Linked DNA regions of Homo sapiens. The protein of the gene in region 2 interacts with the protein of the main gene of each other region in a pairwise test. Each region holds a gene or a part of one and is shown on either strand. Other genes may lie near its edges.

What was found.
Region 1: the proteins of ERP29 (region 2) and SLC35B4 interact in binary tests that used the Homo sapiens proteins (3 or more experiments, as listed by UniProt).
Region 3: the proteins of ERP29 (region 2) and ADIPOQ interact in binary tests that used the Homo sapiens proteins (3 or more experiments, as listed by UniProt).

The regions. Positions count from the first base shown.
Region 1 is NC_000007.14:134,292,931-134,296,583, reverse strand, and holds part of SLC35B4 (nucleotide sugar transporter SLC35B4), read left to right. Parts: intron 1-117; coding exon 118-193; coding exon of another isoform or gene 194-272; exon of another isoform or gene 273-1,504; coding exon 1,505-1,751; 3' UTR 1,752-3,653. UniProt on the Homo sapiens protein: Antiporter that transports nucleotide sugars across the endoplasmic reticulum (ER) membrane in exchange for another nucleotide sugar.
Region 2 is NC_000012.12:112,019,831-112,023,483, reverse strand, and holds the end of ERP29 (endoplasmic reticulum resident protein 29 isoform 1 precursor), read right to left. Parts: coding exon 3,590-3,653; exon of another isoform or gene 3,569-3,589; intron 2,909-3,568; exon of another isoform or gene 1,335-2,908; coding exon 832-1,334; 3' UTR 35-831; downstream 1-34. UniProt on the Homo sapiens protein: Does not seem to be a disulfide isomerase. Plays an important role in the processing of secretory proteins within the endoplasmic reticulum (ER), possibly by participating in the folding of proteins in the ER.
Region 3 is NC_000003.12:186,852,673-186,855,952, forward strand, and holds part of ADIPOQ (adiponectin precursor), read left to right. Parts: exon of another isoform or gene 1-378; 5' UTR 379-386; coding exon 387-600; intron 601-1,105; exon of another isoform or gene 1,106-1,200; intron 1,201-1,460; exon of another isoform or gene 1,461-1,511; coding exon 1,512-2,032; 3' UTR 2,033-3,280. UniProt on the Homo sapiens protein: Important adipokine involved in the control of fat metabolism and insulin sensitivity, with direct anti-diabetic, anti-atherogenic and anti-inflammatory activities.

The DNA.
Region 1 (3,653 bases), on a different chromosome or scaffold from region 2:
TGCAAGGAAGACAATGTTGCTGTTCCTATTATGTTCAGTCTGTATTACCCTGTTCAAAAGATGAAAAATTCAGCTGTGAAAAAGCAATATGGCTATATCCTCTTGTAACCTCTACAGAGTTATATGAAATTCCCGTCATCGGAGTGACCCTGCCCATCATGTGGTTCTACCTCCTCATGAACATCATCACTCAGTATCCTTTGGACTGTGCCGTCACCCTTATGTCATCATCAGGTTCTTTTGGCACAGGAATGGTCATTCTTTTCTTCTAACAGTGTGTTGACTTGAATATGATTTTCGCTGGATTTATTCTGCGGTAAGCTGGAGACAGAGACCAATTCAGGGAACTCCTTGTAGAGGGCAGAAGAGATGCTAGTGGTGTAGTAGGTCAGTAAGGCACAGGGCAGCAGGAGGAAGTGCTCTGAGTGGAAGTGTAGGAGTCCATTGATTGATAGTGGCGGGTGTGGTGGCTCACGCCTGTAATCCCAGCACTTTAGGAGGCCGAGGCGGGCAGATCACTTGAGGTCAGGAGTTTGAGACCAGCCTGGCCAACATGGTGAAACCCCCTCTCTACAAAAATACAAAAGTAAGCCAGGCATGATGATGGGTGCCTATAATCCCAGCTACTCCATAGGCTGAGGCAGGAGAATCGCTTGAACCCAAGAGGTGGAGGTTGCAGTGAGCTGAGATCATGCCATTGCACTCCAGCCTGGACAACAGAGTGAGACTCCATCTCAAAAAACAAACAAAGAACTACTGTATAGCATAAATCATCTGTGATTTGTACCTGTGATTTTTTGGTGTCCTAAGATATTTCCAGTGATCACAAGCTGCTGCAAAGTCCTGAAAGAAATTTCAAATTACCAGCTACTTAGGAGGCTGAGGTGGGAGGATCGCTCAAGCCCAGGAGATCGAGGCTGCAGTGAGCTTGATCACTCCACTGCACTCTAGCTTGAGTAACAGAACAAGACCCTGTCTCAAAAAAAAAAAGAAATTTCAAAGTAATCAAGTTTTCGTTTTTTAAAATGGTTATTTCGAATGACCTTACTTTCATTATAAAAATAATTATGTCTTTGAAATAGTGAAACGAATCGAGATTGACCTCATTCCTCTGAAGTCAGCTCCTAGATTTGCCAGAGTCCCTTTCTGGAGGAGGGGATAGAAGGGCTGGAGGCAAGATAAATAAAGGTGAATGGGATCACCCTTACCGAGAGCGTCACCCTCTGTCATTATCTTGGAGGTGCCTGTCATTGTAACCATAGGAAGACTCCAACATAAGAATAATTGGGGGTTTTTTGGCGGTTTCAAATTGGTACCCATAAATGGAATGGCAGGACAGGAGTTGTTCTGCAGGTTCTCCCCAGGAGGAGCCTCAGAGCTGCCGTAGCGGACCTTCATGTTTTCTTAGAATATGAGAAGTTAAACCAGGGACCATGCCAGAAGGTTCTCTCACTGATCCCCCAAGTACAGTCTACAGAAAACTACCTTGACTCCACTCCTCCAGGTACGTGTGCATCCGGGGTGTGTTTATCCTCACCACAGAATGCGCCTCCCTCACCGTCACGCTCGTCGTGACCCTACGCAAATTTGTGAGCCTCATCTTTTCCATCTTGTACTTCCAGAACCCCTTCACCCTGTGGCACTGGCTGGGCACCTTGTTTGTCTTCATTGGGACCTTAATGTACACAGAGGTGTGGAACAACCTAGGGACCACAAAAAGTGAGCCTCAGAAGGACAGCAAGAAGAACTGAGGCCTGTCTGGAGTACGTAGACCAGTGTCGTCGTGAGGGTGGGACCCTGTGAAGGTCTGACCACCGTTTCGCTTTTGTTAATGCCGAGCTACCCGCAGTGCTGAGCCAGCCGTGCAAAAGGAAATCTTCAGGAGGGGACTTCTCACGTTGCTCAGACTGACACATGTAGACTAAATAGAAACCCCTCAGCCCTAAAATAGAAAAAAGAACAGTTCTGGACTATTGAACAGCCCATTCATTTATTTCTGTTTTGTTTACCGACATATTCAGTATTATTCTTGTTTTCTGAATTCTGAGTCTCCTGAACAAAAGGCTTACTATCCATGGTCTTGGAAAAGATTGTCCCTTCTCTTGCTGTTGTAATGCATCTCTGCTACAGCAGTCATTGTCATCCTGTGACCTTATCCCTTTTGTCTCCCATCACCTTTTCCTTCTTCAGCAGCACCTCACAGTCAGTCAGACGCTGCAGGCACCACTATCACCAGGAGTGGCCAAGTAAACCGAGACACCAGTAACAGCAGGGCTGGACTTCCTCCAGCGTTTTGGGAAGGAAAGAGATGTTCCCCTGAGCTGATTCCCAGTGACAGTGCAGCAAGACTAGTGGGACTCCTCTTTCCCACATTTTGCTTTTTTTTTTTTCTATGCAAAAGTCAGATGCTTCTATCCATTGCTTTCTGTGATTAGGGCGGCCCTGCAGCATATCTCACAGCAGACACAGTGTTCATAACAAAGAAAGGTTGTGCCGGGCACGGTGGCTCACACCTGTAATCCCAGCCCTTTGGGAGGCTGAGGTGGGTGTATCACTTGAGGTCAGGAGTTCAAGACCAATCTGGCCAACATGGTGAAACCCCATCTCTACTAAAAATACGAAAATTAGCTGGGTGTGATGGCGCATGCCTGTAATCCCAGCTACTTGGGAGGCTGAGGCAGGAGAATCACTTGAACCCGGGAGATGAAGGTTGCAGTGAGCTGAGGTCGTGCTACTGCACTCCCGCCTGGGTGACAGAGTGAGACTCTATCTCAAAAAAAAAAAAAAAAAAGAAAGGTTGTTATGGACTGGACACCCCTGAAGCCCATTGCCTAGGCCACAGTGGTGACGGCAGGATGGCCCTGCTCAGCACCGCAAGAGCCATGGCTGTCCCTGTTGGCCCAGCCGGGCACTCACAGGGCAGAAGGGTGGGTCTCAAGTGGGAGGATAAGGCTTCACCACCAGGAGATTCCCCTCTGCCCGATGACTCTGTTAAGAGTCACGACCCATCAAGGGAATGCATAGATGGAGATATATAGTGTGTGATGTGTAAATCAGGTCAAACCTCAACGACAATTGAAAGTTGTTATTGTCCTATGAGGTATCTTAGCATTCTCGATGGGTATTGAGGATGGTTGGATGTGCTTTATTGTGTGTGGAAACATGCCTCTCTTTGCTAATCATTTCAGAGGTCCAGTTTTCCTTTCACTGGACAATCTTGAATAGGAGGAACGCTGTTGCTGTAATATGCGTAGCTTCTGTGTGCTCTTGTGTAGTCTGTGTGTGATCAAAGGGCACGGAAGTGGCTGCACTTTCACATCCCTTTTCTTTACTTAGCTGGAACCTTACATACCAGTACATGCTCCTCTGTAAGCAGCTGAACTCACCGGCCACTTCTCTGTTTGCCTATAGACAAAGACTGTGTGTGTGTGTGTGTATGTATGTGTGTGTGTGTGGTGCACACATTGTGTTCTTAAACTGAGACGTGGCTCTGCAGGTCTCCTGGGCTCATTCCATGGTGTGGTATGTTTATTCCACTGTCCAGAGCTATTCTCTGATGGATTTGAGCAACAGCAGTGGAGATAAATGTCCTAGAGTCACCAGGTCGCTTGGAGAAGTCATTTAAGCTGCCTCGGGTTTTTGTTACTTAAAAT
Region 2 (3,653 bases):
ATAACTGCTTCTGAGTCTGAAGAAAAGATGTGAATGTTGGCACAAGTGCTCTTTATTCTGCTTTCTAGAAGTTAGTATTTATTTAGTGATAGTGATTTAGATGGAAAATATTTTTTAATTTTGAAATCGGACTATATCATTTAGCTGTGTAAATCCAAGTCACAGAATATATCAGTAAAACTAAGAATTTGCTATGTGTACCTCACAAAGCATGGAAAATAATTACACCATGGTCCATCAATGTTGGTTCAATATATTCATCAATACTGCTATTGAGTTTTAAGGACTGGAAAATAGACAAACTTTACCATTGACAGTCAATCCATGTCAGTCTGAATATCACTGGAAAATAACAAAGGTATGCCAGTTTCCACAGTGTTATGAGGATAGTTTGTTACCCTGGGAAAGTGGAGTCTATACCAGCTTAGATTCAAAGAGGAAAGCAGGTCATAGACGAAAGTATAATTTGAAAAGAAAAAAGAATGGCTTCAGGTCCACTTAACCAAAACACTGAAACTTTAATTGAATGAGAATTACATCTGTCAAAGACCTGGGCAGTACACTCCTCTCTCCTCTCTATAGCACTCATTCCTTCTGAGGTGTCATTTCACCAGCCACCTGAGTAAGTGCTCCAGCTATCCCCAGACCAGCTAGAGACATCCCAAGCATGGTCATGTTAGCATCAATGTCCAGGCATACTCAGGGCTCAGAATCGTGGGTTAGTACCACTTTTCCCACTACCCCCTTATATTCCACAAGGGACTCACAGCCAGCAGGTTAACTCTCCCCTCCCTACCCCCACCAAACCCTGGAAAATCACAGACAGCCTTTTTACAGCTCCTCTTTCTCGGCCCCCTTCTTCTGGAAGGCAGTCAGGATGTTTAAGCTCTTCTGGAGCTCCTCCTTCTTCCCGTCACTCATCTTGTTCTTCTCAATCAGCCTGGCGATCCGTGTCATCTCTGATGCTGGGAAGTCCTCCCCTTGGTCTAAGATCTTCCCCATGATCTTCAGGTATTGCTCGGCCCACTTCTTCTGAGTCTCCTTCACACTTGAGAGGTTATCTTGCCCCTGCTTCAAGAGGGCCTGGCGGGCCTCCACACCAGAGGCCCTGATGAACTCCCCGGCCAGGGCGTCGTATACAGGCAGGCAACCAGGCATACCTAGGTAGACCCCTTGCCCCTTCAGCCAGCGCTGGATGGCTCCAACCTTAACTGCCCCAGTGTATGGGACTGGGTTCTCAAAGTCCCCATCCCGGAAGAGGTAGAAGACTGGGTAGCTCTCTTTGTCCAGCTTGTATTTCTCACTCAGCTCCATGTTCAGCTTGTCACCATAATCTGTGAGCAGAAACCAGACACAAAAAGCAAGACCATAAGGAACTCAGGGCAGAAAATTGCTATGGGACCTAGCTGAACTGAGGGAAAGAAGAATTTTCTTGGCCGTGTAATGGTTCAAAGTGAGGAGCAACCATACAGACCTGTGTTTGAATTCCTCCTCTGCCACTTCCTAGCCATGCAGCACTAGGCAAATCATTTAAACTCTCTGAACTGTTCTTCATCTGAAAAAATGGAGATTCTTCTGAATATTTATTATATGCCCACTATGTGTCAGATGCTGTTCTAGGTGCTGGGGGTCTACTTGTGATTAAGAGTATTAAGCTCGGACGGGTGCGGTGGCTCATGCCTGTAATCCCAGCACTTTGGGAGGCCGAGGCGGACAGATCACGAGGTCAGGAGTTCAAGACCAGCCTGGCCAACATAGTGAAACCGCTGTCTCTGCTAAAAATAACAAAAAAATTAGCAGGGCATGGTGGCGCGTGCCTGTAGTCCCAGCTACTCAAGAGGCTGAGGCAGAAGAATCGCTTGAACCCAGGAGGTGGAGGTTGCAGTGATCCGAGATCCCACCACCGCACTCCAGCTTGGGCAACAGAGTGAGACTTTGTCTCAAAAAAAAAAAAAAAAAAAAAAAAAAGACTATTAAGCTCATATTCTTCTAAGGGAGAGAAGAGACATAACAAACACATAAACACAGGTGATGAATGCCACAGGGAAAACAAAACAGCGCGATGTGACAAAGTGGGTAAGAAAGCCCACTTCAGGTGGTCAAGGCAGGCCTCCCTGTGAAGGTGACATCAGCTAAAGGACCTGAATGTCCTGGAGCAAGCTACGTGAAGATTTGGGAAGAGTGTCTCAGGCAGAAAGGACTGCAAGTGCAAAAGCTCTGAGGCAGGGCTAAGCTCAGGAAATTTCAGGATTACAAAGACCAGTCTGGCTGGAGCTGGGTGAGAAAGGGGAGCATGTGGTAGGGAAGGAACACAGTCCCTGCCACATGGGGGCTGTTGGGAGGACCGGATGAGGGAATATGTGCGTGATACTTGGCAGGGTTATATGCTTAATATGTGGTAGCTGCTGTTAGTATCTGCAACATCCTTCCTAACGAGCAGTAGCAGCCCCAAGGACTGATGCTGTGACAACTGGTTTCTTACACTTTGCCGAGAAACGGCTAAGACCAACTACTAGTAGTGGTAGTACTGGATGCCTAGGGTTCCAAACCTAGTTCTGCCACTTAACAATTCCACAATCTTGAGCAAGTTACTCTAAGCATCCATTTCTTCATTTGAAAAAATGGAGGTAATAGTACCACATGGGACTTCCTTCACAGAGCTCTTGCAAAGATGAAACACATGTAAAACACTCAGCACAGCGGCCTGGCACGCAGTAAACATCTGATAAATGTTAACTATTATTATTATTCTAATAAAAGCACCAAGGGAGTTACCTGAAGTTGAGTCAAATCTGACTGACTGTCCTGGAGAGGTGTGCCAGCTATCTCTACCCAGGACCAGACGCTCTACTAAGTTCCCAGCTTACTACGGAATGGAGGCATCCAAGCTGGGAGGGAAGTGAAATAAGTAAGCCCCTGCCTGGGACTAAACACTTAGGTGGAGCTCTGGATGAGCCACTCTATCACCCACAGTCCTTTAATCTTTGAGCTTCAGTTTTTTTTTTCCTGAAGTATAACATGGAGATAATACATCTTGCTTCTCAGGCAGAGTTCAAGTGAAGATTTAAAATGCAATGGGGGTGCAGATCTTTACCCTGTCAGCCACTAAATGCTGGTGACTATTAAAGCTGTCGCTGTGGTTGGGAGGTGCCCTTGGATTAGTGGTGGCATCAGTGCATTTGAGCTAACACCAAAACCTAACAGTTTTGGTACATAAACTGAAATGAAGACAGAAGAACTGACTATGCTGTCCCCTAGGGGACATAGCACCCCCTCTGCCCAGTGTTCCCTGCAAGGAGAGCTCAAAGTTCTCACAGTTTAATGTCAGAGAGGGGTGGAATGTGAAGGAAGAGGGGTTCCCTTCCCTTCAGGCACCTGTACAGCTGAGCTTAGATTCCATGGTCCCAAAATCTGCTCAGGTTAAGCCTACTGTGGGCAGCAGATTCCTTTAGAGACCATGAACCTGTTTACTTACACTCCTTGAGAGTGGCTCAGAAGGAAAGATGCTGGGTATTCCTGTTCCAAGTAGGGAAACGATTTCTAGCTTCCTCCCTCTCTGCCCCCCCAGCCGTCCTGGACTTGTCCATACCTGAGATCCCCACCTCTGCCACCAAGAGATCATCGCTGGAAGCCGAGTTTTCAGCAAGACGCTT
Region 3 (3,280 bases), on a different chromosome or scaffold from region 2:
AATCTGTGTCATCGTACTTGGGAAACCCAAGGATGGATTCTTGGCAAGTCGACTCTTGGAGCTTTCCCTGTGCTTGGTCCTGTGCTCAGACATGGGAAAATTAGAGGAGTGTCATCTGTGCAATCACTGAATTCATAATCTTGGTGAGGAAAGGAGACTACACACAGGGAATAATGCTAAGTATTACAGATTTCAGGGCAGAAAGAGATCAAGGTGGGCTGCAATATTCAGAAAAGTCTTCCTGGAAAAGTTGAATACTTAGAAAGCAGCTCCTAGAAGTAGACTCTGCTGAGATGGACGGAGTCCTTTGTAGGTCCCAACTGGGTGTGTGTGTGGGGTCTGTCTCTCCATGGCTGACAGTGCACATGTGGATTCCAGGGCTCAGGATGCTGTTGCTGGGAGCTGTTCTACTGCTATTAGCTCTGCCCGGTCATGACCAGGAAACCACGACTCAAGGGCCCGGAGTCCTGCTTCCCCTGCCCAAGGGGGCCTGCACAGGTTGGATGGCGGGCATCCCAGGGCATCCGGGCCATAATGGGGCCCCAGGCCGTGATGGCAGAGATGGCACCCCTGGTGAGAAGGGTGAGAAAGGAGATCCAGGTAAGAATGTTTCTGGCCTCTTTCATCACAGACCTCCTACACTGATATAAACTATATGAAGGCATTCATTATTAACTAAGGCCTAGACACAGGGAGAAAGCAAAGCTTTTTTATGTTAACCATAAGCAACCTGAAGTGATTTGGGGTTGGTCTTCCAAGGATGAGTGTAGATGGTGCCTCTATAACCAAGACTTTGGCTTTGCTGCATCTGCAGCTCCTTTTCCATCCCCTTTCCCATCTTCACCCTCATCCCTATTCCCAGTACATTCATATTCTGATTCCTCTTTCTGTCTGCTTAACTTCCATTTCACCCAGTGGCATTCAACCACATTTACTGCACACCCCCTGAAAGGCTCAGTCCTGCCTTTGGGGAACTCTTGATCTAGGTAAGATGTCTAATGTGCAAGGCTCTGTTGGTGGTTACTACAAGAAAGTCTACTCTAAAAATGTCAAACTGAATGTGAACAAGTATTCAAAGTATGGAGCATAGAGAAAATATACTCACCGTGGACCTGATGAAGAATGAAGGCTTCAAGGAGGAGGCAGAGCTTCAGCTAGGCCTTGAATGATGGGTAGGCAGAATAGAGGAGGAGAGACATCCTAGATGGAGGGGGTAGAATTGCAAAACCAGGGTTGATGGTGCCAGCACATAAAGGGCTGGCAGGGTGGAGGGTCTATGATAGAGACCTATAGGAGATAAAGATAGAGTTGAAATTATGGGAGCCTCCATGTCTGTGGGAGATATAGAAGGAGGAGGTAACACCTCTCTCCTTTTGGGAGCTCTTATTGGTTTCTTGATCTATAAGTCAAGAAGGTTGTGAGTGGGAGCCACAGGGATGGTAATTTAGGCTGTAACCAACCTAGGCAGGAGTTCTGTTCTTTGTAGTCACTGAGGTCTTCTCATTCCTTAGGTCTTATTGGTCCTAAGGGAGACATCGGTGAAACCGGAGTACCCGGGGCTGAAGGTCCCCGAGGCTTTCCGGGAATCCAAGGCAGGAAAGGAGAACCTGGAGAAGGTGCCTATGTATACCGCTCAGCATTCAGTGTGGGATTGGAGACTTACGTTACTATCCCCAACATGCCCATTCGCTTTACCAAGATCTTCTACAATCAGCAAAACCACTATGATGGCTCCACTGGTAAATTCCACTGCAACATTCCTGGGCTGTACTACTTTGCCTACCACATCACAGTCTATATGAAGGATGTGAAGGTCAGCCTCTTCAAGAAGGACAAGGCTATGCTCTTCACCTATGATCAGTACCAGGAAAATAATGTGGACCAGGCCTCCGGCTCTGTGCTCCTGCATCTGGAGGTGGGCGACCAAGTCTGGCTCCAGGTGTATGGGGAAGGAGAGCGTAATGGACTCTATGCTGATAATGACAATGACTCCACCTTCACAGGCTTTCTTCTCTACCATGACACCAACTGATCACCACTAACTCAGAGCCTCCTCCAGGCCAAACAGCCCCAAAGTCAATTAAAGGCTTTCAGTACGGTTAGGAAGTTGATTATTATTTAGTTGGAGGCCTTTAGATATTATTCATTCATTTACTCATTCATTTATTCATTCATTCATCGAGTAACTTTAAAAAAATCATATGCTATGTTCCCAGTCCTGGGGAGCTTCACAAACATGACCAGATAACTGACTAGAAAGAAGTAGTTGACAGTGCTATTTTGTGCCCACTGTCTCTCCTGATGCTCATATCAATCCTATAAGGCACAGGGAACAAGCATTCTCCTGTTTTTACAGATTGTATCCTGAGGCTGAGAGAGTTAAGTGAATGTCTAAGGTCACACAGTATTAAGTGACAGTGCTAGAAATCAAACCCAGAGCTGTGGACTTTGTTCACTAGACTGTGCCCTTTTATAGAGGTACATGTTCTCTTTGGAGTGTTGGTAGGTGTCTGTTTCCCACCTCACCTGAGAGCCATTGAATTTGCCTTCCTCATGAATTAAAACCTCCCCCAAGCAGAGCTTCCTCAGAGAAAGTGGTTCTATGATGACGTCCTGTCTTGGAAGGACTACTACTCAATGGCCCCTGCACTACTCTACTTCCTCTTACCTATGTCCCTTCTCATGCCTTTCCCTCCAACGGGGAAAGCCAACTCCATCTCTAAGTGCCGAACTCATCCCTGTTCCTCAAGGCCACCTGGCCAGGAGCTTCTCTGATGTGATATCCACTTTTTTTTTTTTTGAGATGGAGTCTCACTCTGTCACCCAGGCTGGAGTACAGTGACACGACCTCGGCTCACTGCAGCCTCCTTCTCCTGGGTCCAAGCAATTATTGTGCCTCAGCCTCCCGAGTAGCTGAGACTTCAGGTGCATTCCACCACACATGGCTAATTTTTGTATTTTTAGTAGAAATGGGGTTTCGTCATGTTGGCCAGGCTGGTCTCGAACTCCTGGCCTAGGTGATCCACCCGCCTCGACCTCCCAAAGTGCTGGGATTACAGGCATGAGCCACCATGCCCAGTCGATATCTCACTTTTTATTTTGCCATGGATGAGAGTCCTGGGTGTGAGGAACACCTCCCACCAGGCTAGAGGCAACTGCCCAGGAAGGACTGTGCTTCCGTCACCTCTAAATCCCTTGCAGATCCTTGATAAATGCCTCATGAAGACCAATCTCTTGAATCCCATATCTACCCAGAATTAACTCCATTCCAGTCTCTGCA